Linked DNA regions of Homo sapiens. The main gene of each other region encodes a partner of the protein of the gene in region 3 in a complex. Each region holds a gene or a part of one and is shown on either strand. Other genes may lie near its edges. The genes, in order: HDAC3, TBL1XR1 and CORO2A.

What was found.
Region 1: CORO2A (region 3) and HDAC3 share a complex: the UniProt entries of both Homo sapiens proteins name them as parts of the N-Cor repressor complex.
Region 2: CORO2A (region 3) and TBL1XR1 share a complex: the UniProt entries of both Homo sapiens proteins name them as parts of the N-Cor repressor complex.

What each region holds. Positions count from the first base shown.
Region 1 is NC_000005.10:141,626,805-141,633,914, reverse strand, and holds part of HDAC3 (histone deacetylase 3), read left to right. Parts: intron 1-3,789; coding exon 3,790-3,871; intron 3,872-3,998; coding exon 3,999-4,055; intron 4,056-4,175; coding exon 4,176-4,231; intron 4,232-4,608; coding exon 4,609-4,742; intron 4,743-5,275; coding exon 5,276-5,356; intron 5,357-5,702; exon of another isoform or gene 5,703-5,727; coding exon 5,728-5,801; intron 5,802-5,957; coding exon 5,958-6,022; intron 6,023-7,110. UniProt on the Homo sapiens protein: Histone deacetylase that catalyzes the deacetylation of lysine residues on the N-terminal part of the core histones (H2A, H2B, H3 and H4), and some other non-histone substrates.
Region 2 is NC_000003.12:177,194,472-177,202,031, forward strand, and holds the start of TBL1XR1 (F-box-like/WD repeat-containing protein TBL1XR1), read right to left. Parts: upstream 3,012-7,560; 5' UTR 2,650-3,011; intron 2,008-2,649; exon of another isoform or gene 1,869-2,007; intron 1-1,868. UniProt on the Homo sapiens protein: F-box-like protein involved in the recruitment of the ubiquitin/19S proteasome complex to nuclear receptor-regulated transcription units. Plays an essential role in transcription activation mediated by nuclear receptors.
Region 3 is NC_000009.12:98,120,365-98,126,637, forward strand, and holds the end of CORO2A (coronin-2A), read right to left. Parts: coding exon 6,185-6,273; intron 4,542-6,184; coding exon 4,410-4,541; 3' UTR 611-4,409; downstream 1-610.

The DNA.
Region 1 (7,110 bases), on a different chromosome or scaffold from region 3:
AAGTAGTGCAGTGACCTCCCATACGTCCATCACCTAGCTTCAACGCTTATGAGCAAATGGCCACTCTTTTTTTTTTTTTTTTTTTTTTTGAGACAGAGTCTCACTCTGTAGCCCAGGCTGGAGTGCAGTGGTGCAGTCTTGGCTCACTGCAACCTCTGCCTCCTGGGTTCAAGCGATTCTCATGCCTCAGACTCCCGAGTAGCTGGGATTACAGGCGCCTGCCACCATGCCTGGCTAATTTTTGTATGTTTAGTAGAGATGGGGTTTCACTATGTTGGTCAGGCTGGTTTTGAACTCCTGACCTCAGGTGATCCACCAGCCTCAGCCTCCAAAAGTGCTGGGATTACAGACGTGAGCCATCGCACCCAGCTGAGCAAGTGGCCACTCTTACTTCATCTATACTCCCTCATGTTAGATTGTTTTAAAGCAGATCCTAGATGTTATATCCTTTTATCCATAAATATTTTATTATGTATCTCTAAATGATACTCTTTTAAAAAAACATAGTATCATTATCAAACCTAAAAAGTTAACAGTGATTCCTTAATGTCATCAAATATGGGATCAATATTCAAATTTCTGCAGTTGTCTCATAATTATTTTGTAGCTAATTTAAATCCAGATCTAAACAAGGTCTATACAGTGCATTTGGTTGATATGTCTCTTAAGACTTTTAATTTGTAGCTTTTCTGTCACCCCCTTGAATTTATTTCTTGAAGAAACCAGGTTGTTGATCCTGTAGAATTTCTTATGATAGCTACCATTTACTGAGTGCTTACTCTGCTAGGTATTATGCCAAGGGTTGCTGGTAAATCCACTTAATTCTCATACCAATCCTTAGATGTATTATAATAGACCTTTTTCTGATGTTATATATAAGTAAATTGAGGTTTGGGAATATCTAGGTAACTTAGCCGTAGTCACATAACTGGTCATTGGAGGGGGCATGATCCAGATCCCGGGTTTTTAAACCACTAATCTGTTTTCCTGAAAGATCTTAATGACAGAAGCAGCCAGGGCTGTAGGATAGAGGCCAACTCATTAGGCTGGCATTGGCACCTTTCCAACTTTATCCCTACACCTCAGCTGCACAGGATGCCTTCCTGGAATGCCCTTAGTTCTCTATTCAACCTCTTCAAGGCCTTCTCAGCCTTCACACCATCTCCATGAAACCTTTCTTGACCACACCAGCCCATAGAGCTCTGTCTTGCACACACTGCACTGCTCATTTGGTGTTCAGTCACATGCTGTTTGGGGAGGTTTCTTGTTTTTTTGTTAGTATTCCTGCTGTTATTTCTGAGCTCACTTTCTAGCTCTGTGAATACAGGGTCAGCCCTTACGCCACACTGGGGTCCCGTAGATGCTCTTTGTGCGATTAGGGAATGCTAATTAGAATACTATCTCTGGGCTATTTATGCTGCATCAGTCTTCCTGTCAAACAAGTTACAGTTGTGCTTATCTGTATTTCCGATGAGAATCAGGAATTTTTCTTCTGTTTAATGAATTTCTGATTGGTTTCAAAGTATTCTAACATAAGTAGCCAAATTGTACTATAGGCCTTTAAATGAAAAAAATAAAAAAGTAGTCCCAAGCCGGGCGCAGTGGCTCACGCCTGTAATCCCAGCACTTTCGGAGGCCGAGGCGGGTGGACCACCTAAGGTCAGGAGTTCAAGACCAGCCTGGCCAACATGGTGAAACCCCATCTCTACTAAAAATACAAAAATTAGTCATGTGTGGTGGCACGTGCCTGTAGTCCCAGCTACTCCAGGAGGCTGAGGCAGGAGAATTGCTTGAACCCGGGAGTTGGAGGTTGCAGTGACCTGAGATTGCACCACTGCACTCCAGCCTGGGCAACAGAGTGAGACTCTGTCTTAAAAAAAAAAAAAAAAAAAAATTCCAGACCTCTCCTTTTCACCCATAAATCCCTCTGCCCAGTGACAGCCACTTTCAGCTCCTTTCCCCTATGTCTTCTGGTATTTACCTTTGGATTTCTAAATAATAATATTAATTGACTGTTATTACTAATCTGTAATCCTTAGGTAATACCTGTTATATACTAGGTACTGTTCTAAGTGCTTTACAGCCATTAGCTTATTTAATCTCAACAACCCCTATGAAGCAGGGTCTATTATTGTTTCCTTTTACCGATGAGGACACTTAAGCACAGAAAGGTTAAACAGTTTGTACAACCTCACTATCATTAGTAGGTGTTAAAGAACCTAGGTAGTCTAGCTCCAGAATCGGTGCTTGTAATCATACTCCCCTCCTGTATTGTCTCTCATTGCTATTTCTTCGTCTGTCAATTTTAGGCATTATCTGTTAAGCTTTTAGTATGGGATATGAGCATTTAGTCTTCTTACACCATCACATTGGCTTCCTTTCCCCTTTCAGCTTCATAGTAATTTAAAAATAAATCAGTATTCTGTGTTTACATTATTATAACTCTGAAAGATTCATTTACTATCAAGCCAAATAGTGTAGTGTGATTTAATCTATTTTCTTCTAAAGCTTTTTGTTTTTCCTGGAGCTGACAATTGCATTATTTTTTCATTTGCTTAGTTTTCTGGTATTAATCACTAATTCTTTCCAAGCCTTTTGAGAAACTATAAAACCCTACAATTCTTGCTTGAACCCGGGAGGCGGAGGCTGCAGTGAGCCGAGATCGCACCATTGCACCCCAGCCTGGGCGACAGAGCAAGACCCCATCTCAAAAAACAAACAAACAAAAAACCCCTACAGTTCTGTTTTTCACATGGTCAAATGTATCAGCTGCACTATTTTTTTTTTTTGAGACCTAAAACTAGGGATTGCCTAAGCCTTTCCTTTTTAAAAAGTCAGGTTTATATAGGTATAACTTGCATACAGTAAAATTAACCTTTTTTAGGTGTAAGAGTTCTGAGAGGTTTGATAGAATATATCAAGGTATAGGGCCAGCGCCGATGGCTCACACCTGTAGTCCCAACAATTTGGGAGGCCAAGGCGGGAGGATCACTTAGGCCCAGGAGTTTGAGACCAGCTTGGGCAACATAGTGAGACCCTGTCTCTACAAAAAAAAAAAAAAAAAAGGTATCAAGGTACAGGAAATTTCCACTACCCAACAAAGGTCACTCACCCTTTTGTAGTTAATAACTTCTCTGCAACCTAGATCCAGCCAACTACTGATAAGATGTCTGTCCTTGTATTTTACCTTTTCCAGAATGTTACATAAATGGAGTCATACAGTAAGTAGGCTTTTGTGTCTGGCTTCAAGCCTTTACTTTTTATAAAGAATAACAATGGTAATAATTATAGCTGACATTTATTAAAGGCTGAGCGGATACTGTATACTGTGCTACAGGCTTTTCGTGGGTTATCTCATCACTGTTTCACATATGTAGGTATACAGTTCTTTCTTTAAAATATGTGACTGAAAAATATTATTGAACATTATGCTAAAATTTGTTACACTGAGAAGACTAAGAAAAACAGAGCTCATGTTTTCTTTCAACTGATTTCCTTTTTACATTGTACTTGAGTACCTGGAAGCTGCTTGCTTCTTTCCGCAGCTAGGATACAAACTCCCTGACAGTTAAGTGCTTCTTTACTTCCCATCCAGTGCCTTGCACAGGGCTTGGTACATGGTTTGGTCCAAAATATTTGTTGAATAAATTTGCAGATAGCCCACGTGTGTAGGAGAGGGAGAGAAGGTTCTTGAAAAATGGAGATTGGAGGAATCTAGGATGGGGAGGGAGATATGGGAAGGGCCCAGACAGAGGCAGGAGGGTTCCAACTTGTTCCTCTTCCCTGCAGCCCAGTGTTTCCCGGGCTCTTTGAGTTCTGCTCGCGTTACACAGGCGCATCTCTGCAAGGAGCAACCCAGCTGAACAACAAGGTGACATAGTCCCGAGTCCTGTTCTTCCTTTCCTCTGGATCCCTGGACTCGGGATTTAACCCTGATCCTGGGCTCCCAGCTTGAGGGGTGGGCAGGAAGGACTGTGACTTAGGTGTTTGTCTTTCAGATCTGTGATATTGCCATTAACTGGGCTGGTGGTCTGCACCATGCCAAGAAGTTTGAGGTGAGTGAGGAGGTGATGGGAAAGACAGTGGCCATCCTAGGGTAGGTGTTTAGGATGATGGTGGGGGGCAGCTGGGAGGGGAATTGCTCTTCTCTTTATGAGACCACTGTCTTGCCATAGGCCTCTGGCTTCTGCTATGTCAACGACATTGTGATTGGCATCCTGGAGCTGCTCAAGTAAGTAGCCCAGGAGGAGATGGGGGCAGTTACGGGATTCTTGGCTGAGGAGGTCTCTCAGTCTCAACCCTGACCTTGACCTCCCTCCTCCCTGATTAGCTTCTCCCAAGTTCTTGATGCTTTATTCAGGCTGCCTCTTCCACTGCTGCAGATTCCCTACTGCCTGCTCACATTTCAGCCTTCTCTGCATATCCCTCTCCTGTCCCTGCCTCTAGCCTCTAGGCTGGAGCCCCCAGTTGCCTTTAGGGAACTGGTGACATTAAGTTTCAGGTGACCAGGGCAGAAGCAGACTCTTCACAATTCGAGACCCGGTGTTTGAGAGGAGTGGGTTGGGGGGTTCACTTCTAGCTCAGACCCTGGCTTTGGCTTCCCTCTAGGTACCACCCTCGGGTGCTCTACATTGACATTGACATCCACCATGGTGACGGGGTTCAAGAAGCTTTCTACCTCACTGACCGGGTCATGACGGTGTCCTTCCACAAATACGGAAATTACTTCTTCCCTGGCACAGGTATGGGAATAGGGATTACTTTCCCCTTTGCACCCTTCAGCTCTTTACTATGAGTGCCTCCTTCTCAGCCTTCTAGTCTCATCTCAGGTGTCCCCTCCTCAGAGAAGCCTTTCCTTACCACTCCAGTTATCATAATCACCTCCTTCCCCATTCCTCTGTTACATCAGCCTCATTGTTTCCCTCAGAACACTCACTGCTATTTGTGTTTATTGTGGTTTTTTGTTTTGTTTTGTTTACTGCCTCCCTCCTCCTCATGGCTATTCCCTAAGAATATAAGCGTGGTGGGATATCGTAAATTTCATTAGTTCCATTCGTTGCTGCATCCCTACTGCCTAGTACACAGTTGGCTCAGAGTGGATCCCCCAAAACTATTTGCCCAATGAATGCAAGCTGCAAGAGATTTAGTGGCTCTAGGGAGTTTATGGTGAAGCTACATAGATGGAATGAGAGGCTCCCAGAGTGCAGATTGGGGCTGAAACAGCTGGGTTGTGGGTGCTTCCCATGTGTGGCTACCACCACCCACTTCCCTACAGGTGACATGTATGAAGTCGGGGCAGAGAGTGGCCGCTACTACTGTCTGAACGTGCCCCTGCGGGATGGCATTGATGACCAGAGTAAGTACCGAAGTCTTCCCTCTGTTCCCTAGGCCCCTTCTTTTTCTCCTTGAAATAACCTCTTCTGCCTGGTATTGTCTGCTGTTGGGCCAGTTGTCCTTAAGGATGAATGGCCTTCAGAGGGACCATGAATCTCTGGAAATTGTATGCAACATATCATGTGTATGTGCATTTTTCTGGGAAAAGTCATTGGCTTTCATCAGTCACTCATAGCAGTCTGGGATCCCTTCCAGAAGTTTCAGACCAGTGATTTGATTCTTTTGGGTGGCCCCTTTCCTGGGCTACATGCTCGCTCAACCCCCTTTTTCCTTTTGTTCCCTGTCTCCCCATCCCCTTGGGGTGCCAGGTGCCCATCTTTGGCCCTCTCCCAGGTTACAAGCACCTTTTCCAGCCGGTTATCAACCAGGTAGTGGACTTCTACCAACCCACGTGCATTGTGCTCCAGGTAATACTGTCAGTTCCTCCTCAGGAGTGTTCTGCCTGGGCTTGGGGAAAGAGAGCAAGGGAAGAGGAGGTTCTTTAGGTTGGTGGTGGAAGGGGTATCTGTGATGTTCTGATCAGTTCTGATCACTGCACTTTCCTGGGGTTTTGCTTTTTGCAGTGTGGAGCTGACTCTCTGGGCTGTGATCGATTGGGCTGCTTTAACCTCAGCATCCGAGGGCATGGGTGAGACTTGCTCTCCTTCTTCTCCCCAAGGTTTTTAAGTGGCCTTGGACTTCAGTACGTGGGTGGGGGTAGTTGGGGAATGGGCCTCACCTCTTCTTGGAAATCAAAAATAGCTACAAATTGTACTTGAACTAGAAATGTCATCTTGAACAGGGTTCCCTAGATGGTCATTCATTCACGATATATTTTTATTAAGCACCTGTTATGTTCCAGGCATCATACCACATCATGGGGATGGAATAAGGAGTCTCCCATGGAGTTTACAGTTTAGGAAACAGACAAAAAATAAATAATCAAATGAAATAAATAGATTCTTATAAATTCTGTGAAAGAAAAAAAGAAAGCTGAGACACAGGATACAATGGGGGACCTACTTGAGATAGCATGGTTTCGGAAAGTTTTTCTGAGGAAGTAAAATTTGAGTTGAGACCTGGAGACTAAGAAGGAGTGAGTCATAAGAGGAGCAGAGAGAAGCCTGACCCAAGCATGGACAAAGGCCCACAAAAGGCTCTGAGGGCTGGGCCCAGTGGCACACACCTATAATCCCAACACTTCCAGAGGCCAAGGTGGGAGAATCGCCTGAGGCTAGGAGTTTGAGGCCAGCCTGGGCAACATAGTGAGAGCCATCTCTACAGAAAATAAAAAACAAAATCAGCTGGGCATGATGGTGCATGCCTATAGTCCTAGCTACTCAGGAAGCTGAGGCAGGAGGATCACTTGAGCCTAGGAGTTTGAGGTTACAGTGAACTATGATTGTGCCACTGGACTTCAGTCTGTTGAGGTGAGGTCCGAGAAGCTGGCCATGGTGAGATTGTGCAGAGCCTTTAAACCCTGGTAAGGAGTTTGAATTATATTCCAAAGATGATGGGAAACCATTGAAGGATTTTAAGCAGGAAAGTGACATGATCCAATTTGTGTTTGAAAGTGACAATTCTGACTGCTGAATAGAGAAAGGTTTGGGTAGGGGGGATGGAGATGGAAGTAGAAAGACCAGTTAGGAAGCCATGGTGTTGGTTAGGTGCCCAGACTAAGGTGGAGGGGGTGGCAATGGAGAGAAGTAGATGATCTGAGAGGTGTGTGTGTGTGTG
Region 2 (7,560 bases), on a different chromosome or scaffold from region 3:
TTGAACAAACCCAACAAATTATTTCAACCAACTTCATCAAAATGTGTCAAGTCAGGAATTCTTTATAATAGTACTGCTACAAGTTGTACTAGGGAGATTCCTTTGTCAGCTACTCGTCTGACAAGGTTGTATATATACTGCACTGATAGATTTAATCAACAAGTTGATGTTCAAAAGGTCTATTAATACATTTCCTTTTATCAGTACCCCTTATATTTATATTACCTTCTGTTAGCTTGAAAGGCTCCTAGAACACAGGAAGCAGTTACCTCTAATTCTTTCGGGAGACTGGTGTCATGGTAATCATGCAAAACCTTTAATTAGGTGTCGAGAATACAAATATCAAAAAGATTCTTAGACATACGTATTAAAATGCTTAACACTTCTTTGAAGCAACCAATGCAAAAATATCATCTCTGCAAGGGGTCACTCCATTTACCACCAGTGTCTCCCACATTAATACCCAAAGCTGGTATACGTTAAAAGAAAAATGTCATAAACTGACGGTGAGCTTTGCAACAATTTTTATGCCATTAACATGTCACTTTATTAAGTTCCTTAGCAATAAGAAAAACTTTTCCCAGGCACGTAGTTTTCGTCCCCCATACAGTTTAGTATTTTGTCCTGTAGGTCGGATTCCAACAACTCAAACGTCAAAAAAAATAGTAGTTATTTATGAATTTAATGATTGCGATTACATACATCTCAGTGCAGGATAGGGTTGAAAAAAAAAATCATATTCCAAACAAGAAAACCTGGATTTAAGAGCAAGAAGCCTAATCACACATCACACGCCTAACTGCTCTCAGGCATACTTTCTTCCTGCAGCCCCTCCCCCACAGGTAAATGCTAACTATTTCTAGAACTCTCAACTATTTGGGAAGCTTGCCATCAACTCCCATGATACCACCCAACCCACACCATGTTTTCGGGGAGACAAAGGTGCCCTACTTCCCCAGACTATAAACTATTAAAATGGTGAGAACATACAATCCCAGGAAGTCGGCATTACTAAAATACATCAATGTAGCATGGGTCTTATTTTAACAAAAATGAAAATGAATCACACTGGAAAACCCAAACAGTCACTCATTGTATCTTCAACGTGTAATCGAAATTATTTATTCCAAGTTATTTCAGGTAAGTAGATGAACACACCACGAGGGCCTTATTATCCAAACTGGTGAAGAAGCCTTTAGGAAAAACGGAGGGGGAAGATCACTTAATTATATGAGGTGGGGGGTAGAGCAACCATTCAGTCTTAAAATTCAAACTAAAAATAACCTGGCATTTTCACCCCCCACATTTTATTAACAAGCTTGTTTAGATCAGCATACGGTTCCTGTTTGGAAAACAAGAAAGTGAATAGTAAACTTTCCTAAGTCAACTGTAAATCACATAGGTACTAAAACTCTTCACCCCTGGTGCCTGCACAGTCCAAGATTTCAAGTAAACTCCAGACACTGAGAACACCTAATTTTTAACTAGTTTCCAACATTTCTCATTTGTAATCACCAAATTATCTTAGAGACACTTAGATAACCTAACAAAGAGAGCATTTTTTAAAAGCCACAACCCAAATTTTACATGAAATACACCATTTTCACAACCTAAATTTAATCCCGGTTGCCACTGCGAAGTGATGCCTGTTTCAGCAAATTAAGAACTTCCAAAAATACTGAACACGTTAACACATGCATGGCTTCCCTCGAGCTGCCATTTAAGATTAATATTCCACTTAAATAAAAGTCTGCTTCTGTTCAAAAAATTAAATCGGTTGCAAAGAGGAAGTTACCGAGAAACCACCCTCACAACGTGGCCTTTACACTGTCAGAAAATAACGTGACTCTGTGCCACCCAAAACTTACCAGGAAGCTGGCAATAACTTTGCCAATTCTACACTCCTGAACCCAACTTCAAAGAGCCTCCACCAAATACCTCCTTAAGACGATAAAAAGCACTAAGTTACAAATAAACACGTCCCGGAGCAAGGCCCGGCTGCCGCGCGCCCCTCCCCCGGCCGGCGCCCCCGCCCCGGACGCGCGGCCCCAACAGCCGCCCGCAGCCCCCAGCACGCCGGCCGGGGTCGCCGCGCCCGGGCCGGGGACGCGCCCGGGGAGGGGAGATTTCCATTGCCGCCCGAGGTTTCACAAAATAGCATGCACCGAAAAGCTCCTTCTCCTCTGCTAAAAATAGGCTATAAAGGAGTCGGCCTCATGATGGCTCCTTGATTCAATTTGCTGCAAATCCTTTCCTGAAAGCCTCCCCCCCCAAACACACACGCACAAAAAGGGGGTGTAAATGCACGAAGGGAGGAAGAGGGGGAGAAGGCCGAGGTGCACATTTTCGGGGACAACATAATTAGGGTGAGGATCCCCCGAGACCGGGAAAGGGTAGGGGGGTGGGCAGGCACGTGAGCATTTCAAAGAAACCTGAGAGAGGAAAACGGGGGGATGGGGGCGCCCCAAGTGCCCTCCCTGCCTTCCCTTCCCCCACGCAAGCCCAGTTCCCCCAAGGGCCAAGTTGAAAAATGCATGTTCCACTCGCGCCCATCCCCCCGCGGCCCAGCGCCCCCGGCCGCCTCTGGCCCGCGCCCCCCGCCCAGGCCCCCGGCCGCCCCCACTCCAGGGTCCGGCCCCCAGCGCTTACCTGGAAACGGTGGCCTCCAACGCCGCTCCCCCCTCCCGGGAATGGAGGCACAAGGAAATTCCCCTCCTCGCCGCCGCCGCCACCGCCTCCAACCACCCCCAAAATAACCCCTCCGGGGGGTGAGAGGCAATTATAACCCCAGCGAGCGGAGGGCGCGGGGGATGGGCGCCGGGCGGGCGGGGGCGGGGAGCGCGGCGCGGGTCCCCAGGTGGCGAGCGGAGGTGCTCCCGCCGCGGGGGGAGGGGCGGGGGCGCACGCGGCCGGCGGCGGGGGGAGGCGGCGCGCGGGGGAAGGGCGCGAGCGGGGAGAGGAATTGAGGCAGAAGGTAAAAGCTGTTACTAAGGGAAAGAGCCAAACGGTTCGGAGCAGCCAACGGCTCAGACACTCAACACTGGGGAGAGAGGAATGGGGACCAGCCAGGCACAAATGAGCTCGCGAGGCCCGCGGCGGCGGCGGCGGCGGCGGCCGCGCAGCAAAACAAACCCGAGCGGCCTGCGCCGGGCGGGCGGGCGAGCGGGCGGGCGGGCGCGCGGGGGAGGGGCCGGCGGGGGAGGGGCGCCGCGGACGCCGGGAGGCGGCGGCGGCGCGGCGGGGGGGCTCCAGCGGCCGCGCTCCTCTCCTTCCCGGCCCGCTCTGGCGGCACTGGGGGCTGGGCTGTGCGGCGCATTCTTTTAAAAATCAGGCGAGCCCCGCGGGCACTCGAAGGCGCCTCGGGGCCCCGGGCCGCCCGCCCCGCCCCCACCGCCGCGGGCCGGCCTGGGTGTGCTCGGGTGTGGGCCGCTGGGCCCGAGACGGGTGGGGGCGGGGAGGCCCGCGCGGTGGCCGGGGTGGAGCCGCCGGCGAAGTTTCCCCAAGGACGCCGCGGGCTCCCGCGTGTCCGGGGGGCGGCCCGGCGGCGTTGGGGGCTGGGCGCACACGCGGCGGGCATGTGGGGGAGTGCGGCGCGGCATCATATGGACATTTGTTTGTGAAAATCTCTGTGAACACCTTTGTGTGCGTAAATACATATGGTTCTCCGAAGCGTACCTGGAAAGGTGCTTTATCTGTAATAAGCGACTTTCAAAATGTGATCCAGAGCACGGGATCTGGAGAGAAAACACGCACACAAGAAAAGGTTTTTGATACTAAACACAAAGCTGTAATTGAAGTATTTATGCCCAAATGTACTGTGAATCAAGCATATGGTGGTATTTATCATCTGGTGGGTCTGTTTGAAAGGTTTGCTCGATCAGTTCTTATTTCACAAAAATAAAATAATGTAACTAAATGTTTACTAAATATATACCTGCACAGTGGCATCCACAGTAGAAGTTTATCCACTTTGTGTACTTTTTGCATGTGTGAAGCACAGCAAGGCGGTTTATAAAGTATAACTTAGATGAGTGATAATGTGGCAGTATGGTTGAGGGAGGGTTGTTTTTAAAGAAGGGAGGCACCTCACAGGTTTTAAAGCAAATGGGGTGGTAATCTTTCTAAGACTTTCAGAAAGATGGGGTAGGGTGCTTTTTAGAGCTTTGTATAAGCTCAGGACTGGAGAAGCAGCCACCCTTTTACATTAAGATACGACTTGAAACCTTTTTGTTATTTCGCTTATTACTGCCTTCAAAGCAAAATAATGTTTGCAGCTTTCTTAAAGGTGAAGGGTTCTGTTTTCCTACTTTCATCAGAATATTTGAAAATAGATGTAGTGATCACTTTAAAGCAACCATCATTTCCTCTCAATATCAGAAACCTGAAGTTTTGCGACACACACACACACACACACACACACACACACACACACACACTACTCGTAACTTGCACCAGTCTGGACTCCTGGTGGCCTAATAAGTTCAGTAATTAGACAGGTGCTTTCTTGGCCAAGGTCAATGTCTCTTTCCCCCCTGAGCCCTTGCTTGGGGGAGCTGCCAGAGGCCTTTCCTGAATGACCTAGTGGGGCAGGGAGCAGGAAAACCATCAGAGGAAAGGGAGTGGGATTGGAAACTCCCTTCCAACCACCAGAGAGTTCAAAGCATATTAGTGGTGTGTCCTTAGAGCTATTTTCATGTATGAAAGTGGGAATGTTGGATTAAACAATGTCACCCGATGGGAATTTAGATAACTGCAGGTTTCCAAAACACTATGCAGAGTGTACAGGGAAACCGCACAAAGCAAGTTTTGCATTTCAATAGGATTCTAAAGCTGAGGCTTGTTTACCTCAGAACTAACACCTTTCAGAAGACTTTATTTCAGAATTGAAAAGAGTATATAGTATCTTCCTTTTTTTTTTTTTGAGTTGATAAATGACGTAGATATCACTAAACATACCCTGTCTTCAGTAAGTAAACTATCTCGGTGGAGCCACTCAATGAAACATATCTATTGGCTTAGATTATTTTTTAAGTTTCATATTGTGCCACCACGGGCGGGTCCTCTCCATACAGCAGTGACTGTAAAATCAAACCCCACTTTCAGTGAGTGAGGACTTCTCAACCATACCATTCTTAAAGCGTCATATTCAAAGCTGCCCACCCCACCCCTTCTCCTTCCCCTAAATGACTTCTATCCCTTATTCCACAAGGGAGGAGACACCCTCCTTCAGGTTCATAGGATCAGGTCTTCCAGCCTGAAGTTCTTATACCCTACACCAAGCTGCCTCCTAAAGTTGTTCAGTGTTAGTTGAGCCTCCTCACAATGATAATAATCCATGCATTTGTTTATATCCCTGTAGTTTACAAGACATTTCTGTGCGTAAATGACTGCATTTAAATATGAAGATCATCGAGGCTGGGGACTTACAAATCCGTTGCAGTAAAATGTACTTTACTCACCACTGTTGGATCATACTAATTGAAGAGAGAGGAGAGAGCAGGAGTACATTTTTTTTTTTTAGGTGGAGTTTCGCTCTTGTCGCCCAGGCTAGAGTGCAATGGCGGAATGTCGGCTCACTGCAACCTCTGCCTCCCAGGTTCAAGCGATTCTCCTGTCTCAGCCTCCCGAGTAGTTGGGATTACAGGCATGCACCACCACGCCTGGCTAATTTTGTATTTTTAGTAGAGATGGGGTTTCTCCATGTTGGTCAGGCTCGTCTCAAACTCCCGACCTCAAGTCATCTGCCTGCCTCAGCCTCCCAAAGTGTTGGGATTACAGGCGTGAGCCACTGTGCCCGGCAGCCTGGAGTGTTTTTAAACAAACAAACAAAAATAGGGGCACCCAAATGTGGAAAGGCCTTGATTCTTCCAGCAAAGGGGGTTTTAAATCAGATCATATTTTGATCCCTTTGATTTTTATATTCTGGAAACTATCTGAAACAACAGTGTGGCTTCAATGTTAAATACTCAGAGAAATAAACCATCACTCAAAGGTCATATGTATTGTCGCCTCGCCCTCTAGCTGTCCCAACATATCCAGCATAAAGGATCAGGGCTGCACCAAAATACAAGCAATGATTAGACTCACTGGGTGAGGAAAGGACAAAGAAGGAACTATTGTTACTAATATTCAGTACTTTGTCCTAATCTAACACTCCCATTACACTTTGAATTAAATGTTAATGTGTTTCTAGAAAGGAGATATTACTGTATTACTAAGAAATTGTAAAGCAAAGGAACACATTAAGTTCTCCGCTGGGTGTGGTGGTTCACGCCTGTAATCCTAGCATTTTGGGAGGCTGAGGTGGGCAGATCACTTGAGGTCGGGAGTTCAAGACCAGCCTGGCCAACATGGTGAAACCTCGTCTGTACTAAAAATACAAAATATTAGTCGGGCGTGGTGGCGGGTGCCTGTAATCGCAGCTACTTGGGAGGCTGAGGCAGGAGAATCGCTTGAACCCTGGAGGCGGAGGTTGCAGTGAGCCGAGATAGTGCCACTGCACTCCAGCCTAGGCGACAGAGTGAGACTCCGTCTCAAAAAAAAAAAGTTCTCTCTTGAATTTTCTAGCTAATTACTCAATGAAGAGAAACCTCATACCAGTAACTGTTATCAGAAGTTACTATATATTGTAAAATGGCTAAACAAATCCTGACTTGTTTTGCCGGGTGCAGTGGCTCACACCTGTAATCCCAGCACTTTGGGAGGCCGAGGCGGGCGGATCACGAGGTCGGGAGTTCGAGACCAGCCTGACCAACATGGTGAAACCCCGTCTCTACTAAAAATTCAAAAATTAGCTGAGCGTGGTGGCACATGCCTGTAATCCTAGCTACTCAGGAGGCTGAGGCAGAAGAATGGCTTGAAACCGAGAGGGGGAGGTTGCAGTGAGCCGAGATCTTGCCATTGCACTCCAGCCTGGGCGGGTGACAGAGTGAGATTACATCTCAAAAAAAAAAAAAAAAAAAAAACAAATCCTGACTTGTTTTATTTCAGTAATATTTTTCCGAGAGGAGTGTGGCATGGCAAGATAGCCTACACATTTGCAACTTTCATCGCTAAAGACATGGAACATTTTAAATTGAAACTGCTTCAATCCCAGGACTACAGGGTCTCATTACTATATATATTTTTAAATCATCATGATGTTTTAAATTGTTTACATTAGCTCATCTACATAAAGTATTCAAAACAAACTTAATTGTATAAAAAAGACATTTGATACCAAAAATATTCTCCTAGTGCTATAACTCATTTTATATTCTTTACTCACCCTGGAATTCAGTGGCTTTACGTCTGTAGCGTTTACCCCCAGGCGTCTTGCTGATACTCTGTGATGTTTCCGTTTCATTTTGACTTACCTTGTGCAATTCTTTGTGGTTCTTCCGAGATGAGGCACATGCCAACCACACATCTCAAGATGTCAGTACACAAGCTGCTTTTCTCCTTCAGTGCATAGCGTGTTGCTTGTGACCTTTCCTCATCAGTGTGAACCTTGTCACAGTTTTCCATGCTTCTATGACCCAATTTCATTACAACAATAAACTTTACTTGAGAGTCTTCATT
Region 3 (6,273 bases):
TCGCTCTGTTGCCCAGGCTGGAGTGCAATAGTGCGATCATAGCTCACTGCAGCCTCTAACTCCTGGGCTCAAGTGATCTTCCCACCTCATCTCTGGAGTAGCTGGGACTACAGGAGCACCATTTAGTTTGGTTTTGATGTAAGTGACTCTGTTTTGGTACTGACAACTTTCACACACACACCACCACCCCAAATTCCAGTTGCCCCCCCAGGCTCAAGTCTAGACTTCCACTTATAAAGCCCTCAGCTCTTTCTTAAGATCCTTGGTCTCCGCCCTGCCTATGCTCCACCCTGTGCTTTTTCAAGACTGGGGGACGTGCAGTTTACCCTGCTTGGAACATTCTTCTTCCCAAATGCCCTTTGCCCTGAGTATTCCAACTTACTCTGCAGGTTTCTACCTTACTATCTTTTCCTCCAGGAAGCCTTCCCTCCTTCTCCTTCCAGAACAGCCTATGCTTTCCCTATCCTGGCCCTCCCCATTCCCGCAGCCATGACTGAAAACTGGAGAGGGCAAAGACTGTCTGTTCTGCCTGTTTTCCAGCTTGGTGTCTGACTCCAAGAGTAGATAGTTAATTGGTATTTGTGGAACAAATCAAGAAAAGGAAAGCTCCTTGTAGTAAAATGGCCAGATGTTTATTATTTTGTTACATTATTTCCATTGCATATTCCACATCTATTTATTTTCACTTTTATTTATTATCATTATTTTTCACAAAGGTACAAGGAATTTCAGAAACAACATTAAAACAATCATTCAAACTGTTTCAGGCACGGTTTCAATTAAAAGCATAGATTTGATTTCTGACTTCCTGTTTCCTTCTATGATACAATCTCAAGTTTTGTTTCAGGAAGCACAATTATTGTAGCGTTAAGGTGGATACCTGCCAAAGCTCATCTCCTAGTGCTGTCCTCATTCTCAGAAAGTTCCTGAGTCAACAGAAAGGGGACGCCCAGGGTATGGAATAAGGAGATGAGAGCATGCTCTGCCAACTGGCTGGGACCTGAATGTGCTAGGCAAGTTCCACTACATCAGCTCAAGAACATAAACAAAAATGTAATTTAAAAAACAGATGGTTTAAAAAAATATCTGATAAAAATTACCTATCCCTCTCCCTTGCTGTGAAATAATTTAAATAATTTATTCTAGATGTAAAAATAATAATACAAAAAAGTTTGTTCAAAGACACCTGTGTCCTGTTTGTTAAGTGTGCAGTCTGGGTCCCTTGGGGTGGAGGGAGCTGGCCAAGGAATGGCATTGTGCAGAGGCATACCGGGAAGCTCTCTGGATGCAACCCCACCTCTACCGCTTGGCAGTCAATGACCTTGGCATGATGTTTCTTCACTTCTCTGAGGCTAGGTCTTTGATTCTGAACATGGGGACTGTAATGCCTGCCTGACCTGTGTTAGAACAGCATGTGTCACTGAGTGGAGGTGGGAGGAATTTGTAAACTGTGAAGTGCTAGCCACACAGGTGGGAAAGGTAAGCCTATCCTGTAGAGCTCTGCTGCCCTGACAATGCCTGGGATTTGGCCTTCTTTTCTGGAGCACACTAAGGCAATCTTGGCTAGTGCATCAGACGGGAGTGAGCCCCAGTGACTGAGTAAATGGAGAATAAGACAAGGAACACGAGCATCCGGCCTGTGCAGACATACAAGCAGAATAAACCACAGCTGGGTAAGGGGCAAACAGGGGCACTGAACCCCCATCGTGCTGCAGCTGCGGTTCCCAGAGATGTTGAGGGAGGGCTTGGGGCAACACTTCTGGACTTTTAAGGAGCCACCAGGCAGGACTTAAGAGATCTGGGTTGAGTCCCAGCTCCTGTCTGGAGCTTGCTGTCCTCTTCATCTTTATTGCAAATAGGTACACATGCAGTCTTCCATCTTCACTGTACTGCAGATCACCTGTGGAGCTTATATGACCATACAGGCCCTACTCTGGAGATTCAGCTTCAGTTGGTCTGGAATGTGGCATGGGCATCTGTATTTCCTGCACGCTCCCAAGGGAATTCTAATGTACACAGCTTGGGTTGAAACCTACCAGACTAGGTGGCCTCCTGCAGTCCCCACCTCAGCTCCAGAATCTAATCGCCCTGTGCAATGGAGATCATCTGCCCCTCCTTGGTAAGGAGGGACCAATTTCACTTCTAATCATTCCCAGTCTCTTGGTGGACTATTGTATTGACCACTGAACTTTAGAGTAGGGCTCGGAACACAGATTCACTAAGGAGGGACAAAGAAAAGCTTTCAGGCTAAAAGGGAACTTTGGGACCATCTGGTACTACTTCTTTACCTCGTATAGTCATTTCAGAAGACCTCCTGGTTAGGTGGCCAGAGGCTCTGCTGGCATGTCTCCAGTGATGGGGGCCCCCTACCTCCTGGGGGACTCTTCTGTTAACTAGGGCTGAAATCTGCCCACATCATCCTGCAGGAGGCAGGCTGTGTACCTGAGGGCCTTGGTGGTGGCAGTCAGCAGTCATGGGCACAGTTCTGAAGTCTGCGTCCCTCCATAAGGGACAGCATCTATCCATATCAGGCTGATTCTGGTTGGAAAGGTTGGTTTTGACCACCTGCCTGTGTTGTAGAATTGGGTTGAATGCCTCTGACCCCTTGCCAGTGTCCGTTAGTTTCTGTAGCAAACCCAGATCACCCCACAGGTAGTTTTCTCTTAGGTCAAGGTTTCAGGTGGCAGATCCTGCAGAGAGCAGCTTGTTCCAGGGTACCCCTGGTTCAGATGAAGAAACTGAGACCAGAGAGGGCAGGACTTGCAAGAGGTCACTGAGTAAGCTGGGGCACAGCTGAGGCCAGAAGCAACAGATTTCTACTCTTTGGGCTGAGAACTGCATCAGACCCAAAAGAGCAAAAAGACAGACCCAGAAAAGCAGGATCTCAGCCCAGCCCTGCCATGAAACAAATATCACTTGCCTCTCTCTAGGCCTTAGTTTCCCCAGCTGTAAAATGAGGAACTTGGGTCAAATCACTAGCTTTCAAACTTCTAAAAAAATTTTTTTTTCCTAGCAGAATTGTTTTTCATACTAGCCCAACATATAAAATAGAAGGGAGCTGTCTGGTTGGAATACAGTGTGGGGAAGGGAGACACAGCCTTCCTGCTTAGTCTTCCCCTATTCTCTCTCTCTTTTTTTTTTTTTTTTTGGAGATGGAGTCTCGCTCTGTCACCCAGGCTGCAGTGCAGTCCGCAATCGTGGCTCATAGCAACCTCCACCTCCCAGGTTCAAGCAATTCTCCTATCTCAGCCTCCCGAATAGCAGGGACTACAGACGCTCACCACCACGGCTGGCCAACTTTTTTTTTTTGAGACGGAGTCTCACTCTGTCACCCAGGCTGGAGTGAAGTGGCATGATCTTGGTTCACTGCAACCTCCGCCTCCCAGGCTCAAGCGATTCTCCTGCCTCAGCCTCCCAAATAGCTGGGATTACAGGCATGCACCACCATGCCTGGTTAATTTTTTATTTTTAGTGGAGACGGGGTTTCACCATGTTGGCCAGGCTGGTCTTGAACTCCTGACCTCAGAAGATCCGCCCAGCTTGGCCTCCCAAAGTTCTGGGATTATAGGCGTGAACCACCACGCCCTGCCTAATTTTTGTATTTTTAGTAGAGACGGGGTTTCACCATGTTGGCCAGGCTGGTTTCTTTCTTTTTTTTTTTTTTTTGAGACAGACTTTTGCTCTTATTGCCCAGGTTAGAGTGCAGTGGCACAATCTCAGCTCACTGCAACCCCCGCCTTCCGGTTTCAAGCAATTCTCCTGCCTCAGCCTCCCAAGTCGCTGGAATTACAGGCGCCTGCCACCACGCCCAGCTAATTTTTTTGTATTTTTAGTAGAGATGGGGTTTCACCATGTTGGTCAGGCTGGTCTCGAACTGCTGACCTCGTGATCCACCAGCCTCGGCCTCCCAACATGCTGGAATTACAGGCGTGAGCCACTGCGCCTGGTGAGACTGGTTTCAAACTCCCGACCTCAAGCAATCCGCCCACCTCAGCCTCCCAGAGTGCTGGGATTACAGGCATGAGCCACTGCGTCTGGCCCAGTCTTCCCCTATTCTCTGGACCACAGTTTGAAAATCACAGACAGGTCAACCTAGATCCTTCCAGCTCTAGTTTTCTACTGTGTTCTTTCCTCTTGAGAAGTTACAGCTCATCATGGGCCCTTAATAACAGAATTCAACAGAAGGCATCATCTGAAAACAAAGTCAATTCAGAAACTGTTGTTGCAAGAAGGCAAACAGAAAAACGGCACCATGTCCCACTGGAATCTCTTTCAGCGATGGAGAGTTTTGTTTTCTGGTAAAAAATATAGAAATAGTGGTTGTCCTTGAGGGGACTTGTGGTTTGGTTCTAAACCTCCCCATGGAGCCGAGTGGTGTCCCTGAGGGTGAGGAGGGCAGAGGTCTCTGCTCAGAGCTGCTCTGAGCCCATCCGCAAGTTTTTGATCTCCAGTTCCAACTGTTTGGCCTGGACCTCTCGCTGGGTCAACAGCTCCCGGAGCCTTCGGATCTCCTCCTGTTGCCGGTAGAACATCTGCAGCAACTGGGGAAGAAAGATCGGAAGGCAGGATCACCATGGTGTCAGGACACCAGCTGAAAGCTAAACCACTATCCCTCTTTGACTCAGAAAGGTGGAGGCGGTCACATTAACATGGCTGAGGCCTGATGGGGCTGTCACTGCATAGATCTTTTACAAACACCTTGTTTACTTCACCCAATAAATGAAATTCAAGAAGACTGGAATGTTTCAGATGTATTTTGCTTCCATAGATCCTCCATGAAATAGAGGAAAGGATGCCTGGCTCTGAAGTCTGGGGATTGGTGTTTTCGCCACCACTGAACTGTGTGACCTTGGGCAAGTTACTTACCCACTCTGAGCTTCCATTCCTTCCTCTGGAAAATGGGGTCAGAAAACTGCCCTCTGTGCAGAATGGGTGTTAGATATTGAGTGATGCCCTAAGGGCCTCGTTATCCCACTGGAACGTTGTGACACCCCTATAAGGGTGGCAGTGCTAGTGTCCCCACCGTACCACCGTGGAAACGGAAGCTTAGAGACATTCAGTCTCTGGGTCTAAGACCCTAAATTAGTACTCAGCAGAGCCAGGATCAGAATCCATCTGTGAGATGCCAGCCTCTGTGTTCTTAGCCACTACAGACTGACTTCCAGGGCTGTTGAGAGAATTCAATCACGTGCTGTATCAAAGTGCCTACCCCAGGATCTGCCACACAGTAGGCACTAAACAAATGTGGACTTTGAAAGCACAGAAAGTCCTATAATGTCAGAACTGGAAAGACTTTGATACCCACTAGGTCAAACCCTCTCCATTTTACAGATGGTTTCCCACCATTTTTTTTTTTTTTTTTTTTTTTTTTGAGACAGAGTCTCACTCTGTTGCCCAGGCTGGAGCGCAGTGGTGTGATCCTGGCTCACTGCAGCCTCTGCCTCCTGGGTTCAAGCAATTCTCCTGCCTCAGCCTCCAGAGTAGCTGGGACTACAGGCACGCACCACCATACCCAGCTAATTTTTGTATTTTTAGTAGAGACGGGGTTTCGCCATGTTGGCCAGGCTGGTCTCAAACTTCTGGCCTCAAGAGATCCACCCGCCTTGGCCTACCAAAGTGCTGGGATTACAGGTGTGAGCCACTGCACCTGGTCACCTGGTCCCCACCATCTTTTTTTTTTTTTTTTTTTAAGATGGAGTCTTGCTCTGTTGCCCAGGCTGGAGTGCAGTGGTGTGATCTTGGCTCACTGCAACCTCCACCTCCCAATTTCAAGCCATTCTCCTGCCTCAACCTCTCAAGTAGCTGGGACTACAGGTGTACGCCACCACACCCGGCTAATTTTTGTATTTTTAGTAGAGATGGGGTTTCACTATGTTGGCCATGCTGGTCTTGAACTCCTGACCTCATGATCTGCCCGCCTTGGCCTCCCAAAGTGCTGGGATTACAAGAGTGAGCCACTGTGCCCAGCCTCCCACCATCTTTATGTATGCCCATCATTTTGGCATAAGATGGAGCTCACTGCCTGTTTGTTGAATGAATTAACAAAATGAGTCAAGTGACTAGGCCAGGCCACACAGCTGGTTATTCTTCTCATGCCTCATTTTCTCCCTTCTTCTCAGCCTGGATCTGTTCCCCTCCACCCCAGCTGCCCCATGTGAAAGGCCCACCCCGTCCTCCTTCACACCTCATTCTCTGTCTTTGGTGGGGGGCATTCGAAAACGTCAAAGCCATTTGTCAGCCAGGTTTTCTTCTCCTCCAGCCTGTGTTCTGCTG